Linked DNA regions of Homo sapiens. The protein of the gene in region 1 binds, or shares a complex with, the protein of each later gene. Each region holds a gene or a part of one and is shown on either strand. Other genes may lie near its edges. A codon is read from its position in the direction of its gene.

Evidence for each region. Proteins that work in one complex are often made in the same cells at the same time.
Region 2: the proteins of CMKLR1 (region 1) and RARRES2 are in contact, whole or in part, in a cryo-EM structure (PDB 8ZJG), measured with the Homo sapiens proteins. Residues at the interface, in NP_001135815.1 of Homo sapiens: Asp20, Tyr21, Leu22, Asp23, Ser24, Ile25, Val26, Val27, Leu28, Phe88, Leu92, His95, Tyr103, His104, Asn116, Leu119, Ile120, Met123, Arg178, Leu183, His184, Gly185, Lys186, Ser188, Cys189, Phe190, Asn191, Trp203, Thr205, His217; in NP_002880.1 of Homo sapiens: Leu34 (codon at 3,032), Phe37 (codon at 3,041), His38 (codon at 3,044), Phe60 (codon at 3,341), Thr75 (codon at 3,386), Ser76 (codon at 3,389), Cys77 (codon at 3,392), Arg96, Leu111, Gly112, Arg113, Leu114, Val115, His116, Cys117, Pro118, Ile119, Thr133, Leu136, Arg137, Gln139, Arg140, His146, Ser147, Phe148, Tyr149, Phe150, Pro151, Gly152, Gln153.

The regions. Positions count from the first base shown.
Region 1 is NC_000012.12:108,337,640-108,341,580, forward strand, and holds the start of CMKLR1 (chemerin-like receptor 1), read right to left. Parts: upstream 1,673-3,941; 5' UTR 1,388-1,672; intron 1-1,387. UniProt on the Homo sapiens protein: Receptor for the chemoattractant adipokine chemerin/RARRES2 and for the omega-3 fatty acid derived molecule resolvin E1.
Region 2 is NC_000007.14:150,339,942-150,343,541, reverse strand, and holds the start of RARRES2 (retinoic acid receptor responder protein 2 precursor), read left to right. Parts: upstream 1-1,912; 5' UTR 1,913-1,964; intron 1,965-2,912; 5' UTR 2,913-2,932; coding exon 2,933-3,106; intron 3,107-3,337; coding exon 3,338-3,442; intron 3,443-3,600. UniProt on the Homo sapiens protein: Adipocyte-secreted protein (adipokine) that regulates adipogenesis, metabolism and inflammation through activation of the chemokine-like receptor 1 (CMKLR1). Also acts as a ligand for CMKLR2.

The DNA of each region.
Region 1 (3,941 bases):
AGTCAAGCCAGAGAAAGGCATGACTTGCCCAAAGTTAAGGTTATCTGTTCCCTGAAGTTTTGGGGGAGTCCAAAGAAGGCCCCTGTGCATCAAGAGATAACTCTCCTGTGGACCTCCCAAGTGTATGACACATCATCATTTGAGTGCCACTGGTTTAGGTTAAAGAAAAGGCCAAGCTGCCTCCTCCTGCACCAGAGGCCTGAATGACCCAGTCACACTCACCTCAGCAGCCAAGGCATTTAGAGGAATCTTACCTTCAAACCAGTTTGGAAGGGGCAGGAGATACAGCAAGAACCACAGAGAAGATTGGTCTTGAGAAGGAGGTAGGGGATGCAAAAGGGAAGTTGAGGGCTTTCCCTAATAGAAAAAGAAAGACTCAGAACCTGGACGTTCAGGCGTGTGACCTCAGACCAGTGATCTGGCATCTCTGAACCGCACAGGTCTGAGTGATTGGGCTTATATCAAGTAGTAGTTCCCTGATGTTGTAATGCTTATAATTTTGCCAAAGCTGGCTTGCCCATTTAAAATGGGCTATTCTGAAGACAGAGGAGGGAGTGGAATATTTTCAACAGAGAGTGCCGGCAAAGGTTTTGTGTCCTTTATATACAAAGAACCCTTAGATATCAATTGGAAAAAGATAAACATGCCCCCAGAGGAGAAAAAAATGGGAACAGACTTGAACAGGAGAGTCAGACTAGAAATGTGAAAAATAAGTTTATAAAAGAGAATCAACACTAACAAAGAAATGAAATGCCTATTGAAGCATCTAGATATTATTCTCGACTTCACATCAGGGAAAGTTTAAGGGATGGGTAGCAACAAGGTGGGTTTAGTATGTGAGAATACTGTGCCCTGGTATAACATCGTAGAGAGGTCAAGCTGCCACGGCCTTCCAGGGTGCAGTGTGACCAAAAGCTCAGAAGTCTTAAAAATAGGCAAACCTTAAATCTAGCAATTTCTAAAAGGTATTCATAAGACACACACACAAAGATGTCATACTAAATATTCATTGCAGCACTGTTCTAATAAAAAAAAAGAAGCAAATCTATTATGGAAAAGTCAAATAATCTTAAGATAGCCTTTCTATGCAGCCATGAAAAATGTATATTGGAAGAATATAGGTGATATGGAAAAAAGTTCACAATCTGTGGTTAAGCAGGTTACCAAACTAGATGTGGAAATCCACATTCATATATTTAGTTGTGTATCCTTGCTATTTCTTTAAACAATGAACATGCATTACTTTTGACATCTGAAAATAATAACAAAACTCTTCCTTTTAACAAATATGAAATTATAAAAAGAAACAAACTTTTCTCTCTGTTAGTATTCATTCCCCTTCCCTGGCCCCCCTCAGAAGACACCCAAGGCAAGTGTGTGATGATACCTTCCCTCTGGTCTCTGCCCGGAAGGTCTTCCTGAGGGTTCCCTGTGACTGCAGGCCACTCGAGGCTGTTGGGGAGACTTGCACACCCTGGCTTCTTTCTGCCAATCACAGGCTCCTCTGGCTGTGGCTGTTTGCCCAGAAAGCAGTTCATTCATTTGTTCATTCAAGATCCCCCTCTGAACCCCCAGAGCGCCGCAGCTGGAACACCCCTATCACCCGGAGGCTTCCCAGGGAGCCTGCTCTGTCCTGAGCTCCCTGCTGGCCGCCGGGGCTGCTTCCCTGAATGGGACTGGGACAGAACTCAGCCAGAGAAACAGCTGGAGGGAGGAGAGCAGGAGGGAGGGGCAGGAAACTGGGCTGACCTAGGGCGGGGGCGGCTAGCTGCGTGGAGAGGGGGCTGCGAGGGGAGGGTGCCCCTACCAGCCGGGGACTGGGCTTGTGGGTGGCGGCGGGGGCCCGCTGGGGACGACCCGCCCCTCTGGCAGCCTCTTGCAGCCGGGGAGCCGTGCCCACTGAGCGCAAACAGGGAGCACATCTGAGCACCCGGCTGCTGGGGGAAGTGCAAGCGCCTCTGCTCCCGGTGAGGGGCTCAAGCTCCACACTGACCGAGAGATTGGCTGCCTCTCACCCTGGGCCTTTGCAACGCTGTTCCTCCCACCTGGATGCTATTCCTGCCCTAATTCGTGGCCCGATGGTCTCCTACTGCCTCTTCAGGTCTCAGGTTGAAGGTCACCTCCCAGGGAAGCCTTCCCCAACCCTCGGGGGCTGCTGTGCCCCTCAGGGTCACCCCATCACCTCACTGATGCAGTGCTGTCCTTGCCTGTTAAGATGTCTCTCTCCTTGCACCGAGAACTCCTTGCACCAGGAACTCTGTAGGGAAAGAACTGTATTCTGTTCCCTGCCCTAACCAGGCGCTAAGTGCCTGGTTCATCGGCTGTGTGGTCACCATCATTAGTGGAATAATCAAAACAACCGACAGCCAGGCAGCGTGCTAGGCGATGCGTACTTACTCTTCACGGCAACCCTAGATAACAGGAATTATTACTACTCCAGTCTTACCAATAAGGAAACTGGGGTACAGAGAGATTAAGTCACTTGCTCAAGACCACACCGCCAGCAGCTGACAGAGCTGGGATTCCAACTATGTTGTCTGGCTCGGAGGCCCACCCTTGGCCTCCAGACTGAAGAAATAACAGAAGTGCCCATGTGGGCCCCTGTGCCAAGTGCTTCCATGGAGTAAGCCGTGTGAACCACCACCCACGTCGGGGGGGCATCACTTGCCCATTCTACACATGAGGATGCTAGGGCCACAGAGCAGAAGTCGTTTTGCCCAGGGCGCCAAGCTCATGCTGACCGAGCCATGGCTGGATCTGAGTCTGTCTGATTCCAAAGCCAAGACTGCCTACGACTGCCTAAAATAATATTTTTAGAAAGAAAAAGAAAAGGGAAGGGCAGGGGAGGGGAAGAGAGGGGAAGGGAGGAGAAGAAAGAAAGGAAGAAAAGGGAGGGCAGGGAGGAAGGTAATGGGGAGGAGGGGAAGGTGAAGGGAGAGGGAGATGGGGAGGGAGGGAGAGAAGGAGAGAAACCTGTGTTTTGGGCCTCAAAGTCTTGGGCAGGTGGAGGACTATGTCCTCATCGTCTGATCAGCCTTAGAACCCCACCGACCTCTCCCCACCATCCTCAATCCTTTAATTCAGTGAGCTTTACACTTAGAAACCATCTAATTTCATTCTTCCATTTCACAGATAACTTGAAGCCCAGAGAGATTGAGTCTCTTGCCTGAGGTCACACAGGTCTCTATAGTCAGAAGTCAGGCCCAGTCTACCCAACTGTCTTCCTTGCTCTCTTCTTCTTTGGGCTTATCTAGGGAACAAAACATCATATCGAAACACTTACTGTACAGATGAGAACACTGAACCCAGAGGAGGCAAGGGACTCACCCAAGGTCACCCAGAAGTTAGTAATTGTATTGGTCCGTTCTCACACTGCTGTGAAGAAATACCCAAGACTGGGTAATTTATAAAGAAAAAAGGTTTAATTGACTCACATTTTCGCATAGCAGGGGAGGCCTCAGGAAACTTACAATCATGATGGAAGGTACCTCTTCACAGGGTGGCAGGAGAGACAATGAGTGCCAGGCAAAGGGGGAAGCCTCTTATAAAACCATCAGATTTCATGAGAACTCACTCACTATCATGAGAACAGGATGGGGGGAAAACCACCCCCATGTTCAATTACCTCCCACCTGGTCCCTCCCATGACTCGTGAGGATTATGGAATTCCAATTCAAGATGAGATTTGGGTCGGGACACAAAGCCAAATCATGTCATTCCCCAGGTTCTCCTGGTGAAAGGAGAGGATATTTCCATAACGTGGCAGGGATCTTGTATATCACCATCTAATAGAGACCAGAGGTTCCTAAAGTCTAGTTTCCATACCAACCCCAGCAGCCTCACCCAGAAGTTTGTTAGAAACACAAACCCTTGGGCCTCACTGCAGACCTTGGCAATCAGAGACTCCAGGAAGCCATCTGGGTTTTAAGAAGCCCTCCAGG
Region 2 (3,600 bases), on another chromosome or scaffold:
TGCTGAAAAATCAACTGATGAAAGGCAGATTAATAGAATAAATTGATTCATTTATATTTTAGAGACAAGGTCTTGCTCTGTCCAGAGAGGCTGAAGTACAGTTTCATGATCAGAGCTCACTGCACCTTTGAACTCCTGGGCTCAAGCAATCCTCCTGCCTCGGCTTTAACAGGAAATATTTATTAACATACATGAGAGAGAACCACAAAGTGATTACCCCAACCCCTCAGTGGGATACAGAAGCTTATCCACCATCTTGAGTTTATACAAATATGGGGGCTCAGATAGTGGCAAGACAGGTTATGGAAGGGAGGGAAGAGGAGGCCTGGTTGGCAAAGGGAGTCTTGTTAGGTAGATGACACCTCACAGGTAGCAGCCCTCAGAAAGAACTGAGGGTAAATGTTTCTTTCAGATCTGTAAAGGTGTCAGCCTCTCAGTTAATCTTTCCTAGAGTTAGACAAGGGAGAGCCTCGGAGAAAGCCTGGCTACATCAATGCAGATTTCCTCTACAGATGCAAATCTCTCCACAAAAAGACAGCTTTTTGGTTATTCTATTTCCAACCATTCTGAACAGCCACCTTGAAATGTGTCAAAGAAGTATTTTTTGGGGTGAAATATTTTGGTTTCCTTCAAGTTCTTGGGCTGGGAAACATCTTTGGGTGCATCTTTTCTCTCTAACCCCATCTAAAGCTTTCAGGGAACACGGATCCCATCTCTTTCTGCTTAAGGGCGGCTGAGTAGCTCACAGCTGGGGAGTGAAGTACCCTAAGTAGTGGTGGGATTTCAGACACCTGGAAGTGGTTAATGGAAGCCGAGTTTCTTTCTGGTGCCCCCAGAGCACACTGTAAAGGAAATTCTCAGCTCTAAGTGGAGAATCCTGGTTAGGGGTGCGTAAGTAGGGGACAAAAGCCTTGTGCTCGGCACTGGACATCAGTTGCTTTTCATGTTTCTTCATTTAATCCTCAAAACAACTCCTTAAGACAGAGTTTCTGATCCCCATCTTACAGATAAAGAAACAGAAGTTCAGAGAGAGCCATGAAGTTACATGAGATCCTCTACTTCAGGTGATCCCTGCGGTGTGGGAACCAGAGGCATGGTGTTGGTGGTTACTGACGTGCAAAGTCTCAGAGCTTCTTCATCCTTGCTCCAGCGTACCCAGGAGTCGAGCCGGTATTTGGACAGTTTTCCTTGAGTTTCTGCTCACCTTATGAATTCCATCATGCCGTTCTGCCACACCCGAAGGCTCCCCCACTCCCCATGAGAATCTATCCCACGGAGAATGGGGCACGAGGAATGGTCAGGAAAGGCAGATGCAGGATACACACTGGACATCTTTGCTGTCGATCAAGGTTGCAGGCGCCAGAGTCCTCCCTAAAGGAGAGACCTTCCTTCTCAGTGTGGCTCAGGGAGTGGGAGGCAGGATCAGGTGTAGGGACCTCGAGGTCTCATTTGGTTTGAGAATGTCTGTATTTAGGGGAAGAAATCCCAGGATGAGTGTCTCAGGGACGCTGGGGAATGGTCCCCCGTAAAGGACCCAAGACAGGGCAGCCCTGCCTGGGTAGGAGTGGGGCACAGAAAGTCCTTGGGGGAGCAGAGCAGCGGAGAAGAGGCCCGGGCCGGCCGAGGCTGCGGAATGCTCAGGCCCGAGCCAGAGGGAGGTGGGACCGAGGGCTGCGCGCCTGGGCGAGCCGCCTGCAGCCGCGGCCAGGGTCAGGGTCATGAGGGCTGGATCGAGGGGAAGGAGGGGGGTGGGATGGGGAGGGAGGGCGCGGGAGGGCATCCCGCCCCAGAGGCCGGTCCCACTGGGGAGGGGAGGAGCCAGAGTTGCTGGAGGGGGTCCAGGAGGTGGGGGTGGGAGGAGGTGGGGGCCGCCCCGCGAGAAGAAGAGCGGGAAGAGGCGGACAGCGAGGCCAAGATTTCAGCTGCGGGACGGTCAGGGGAGACCTCCAGGCGCAGGGAAGGACGTGAGGAGGGGAAGCGGGCTGGGGCGGCAGCCGGGCGGAGGGGCAGCTGCGCAGGCGGAATGAGGAACGCCTTTGCTCTAAGGCGACCACCCTGGCAGCTCTTCACTGAGGGGCCTCGGTTTCCACATCTGTCGCTCTCCGGTCCCAAGACCACCAGGACCGACGGGGCTCTCCGGGAGGGTCAGCCCCTCCGGTGGCCCCAGTCATGCATCAGGGGACGGATCAGAAGGGCTAGGAAGAGGGGTCGTGGGGAAGGCCCCAGAAAAAAGAGGAAGGAGGGAAGATTTTGCCTGAAGCGGGAAAGCCAAGGGCTGGGCGGCGCGAGACCCCCATTCCTAGCGACTGGGGCTGGCTGGTGGCCCGCGGCAGCCCCCGCGCCGGGAGGATTAGGCCTCCCGCCGCTCCCACCCGTCCGGACCCTCCCACGTGTTTAGGTCCTCCCAAAAGTATTCGGCCTCCGGCCCCTGCCCCTTCCCCCGGCTGGCCTGGACCTCGGGGACGTGGGGGGAACCCCGTGGGAGCAGGGGGATTCTGGACGGGGAGGGAGTAGCGGTTGGGGAGAAGGCTGAGCGGGGAAAGGAGAGAGGGGCTCCGGGGACGGCAGGGAGGAGAGTGGGTCGTGCCGGAGACCCAGGGAGAGACACAATGGGCAAGATTAGGGGTGTAGGGTGGGAGTGCGAACTGACTGATTCCTAGCGTGGGCAGGGAACTTTGCTAAAACTGCAGGCCCCAGGGAACAGCGCGGGCAGGGTGGGAGGGAACGGAGAGGGCCAGGCGGACCCTAAGGTCAATTTGGAGAAAGGGCCATTTCCAGGCTCCTTCACCTGTGCCCAGCGTTCTACAGGCCTGGACCCCGCCCCCGCTCCCCACCCTCCCCCCAGAGCAGGGCGCGGGAGGAGGCGGCTCGGGCTGGCTCGGAGAGCTGAGGGGCGCACACCCGCTTCGCAGGGCCAGGGTGACACGGAAGCATGCGACGGCTGCTGATCCCTCTGGCCCTGTGGCTGGGTGCGGTGGGCGTGGGCGTCGCCGAGCTCACGGAAGCCCAGCGCCGGGGCCTGCAGGTGGCCCTGGAGGAATTTCACAAGCACCCGCCCGTGCAGTGGGCCTTCCAGGAGACCAGTGTGGAGAGCGCCGTGGACACGGTGAGTAGCATGGCCCGGGCAGGAGCGGGGAGGGTCGTACCCCAGGAGACCAGCGCATTCCCACGAAGGGGGACAGAAGTGCTTGGGCTCTGAGCCCCAGCCCTTTGGAGAAAAGGCCACTGTCCAGCCTGCTGGAATGTGACTGCGTGAGGGAGGTGCGGATCACACCAGGGCTTGCTCTGCACCCTCAGCTGGCTACCGGCCATCCTCTGCCTGCCTGTCTGTCCGCAGCCCTTCCCAGCTGGAATATTTGTGAGGCTGGAATTTAAGCTGCAGCAGACAAGCTGCCGGAAGAGGGACTGGAAGAAACCCGAGTGCAAAGTCAGGCCCAATGGGGTGAGTGAAGGGGTGTGAGAGCAATGGGCGCATGCTGGGTGTGAGTGCATGGACTTGGGGTTTGGGGTGTGGGGCACATGCCTGGGTGTGCATGCATGAATTGGGAGGTCCATTAAGAAGCCCTGAGGTTAGAGACCCCACTGCGAAGAGCCTCCTTA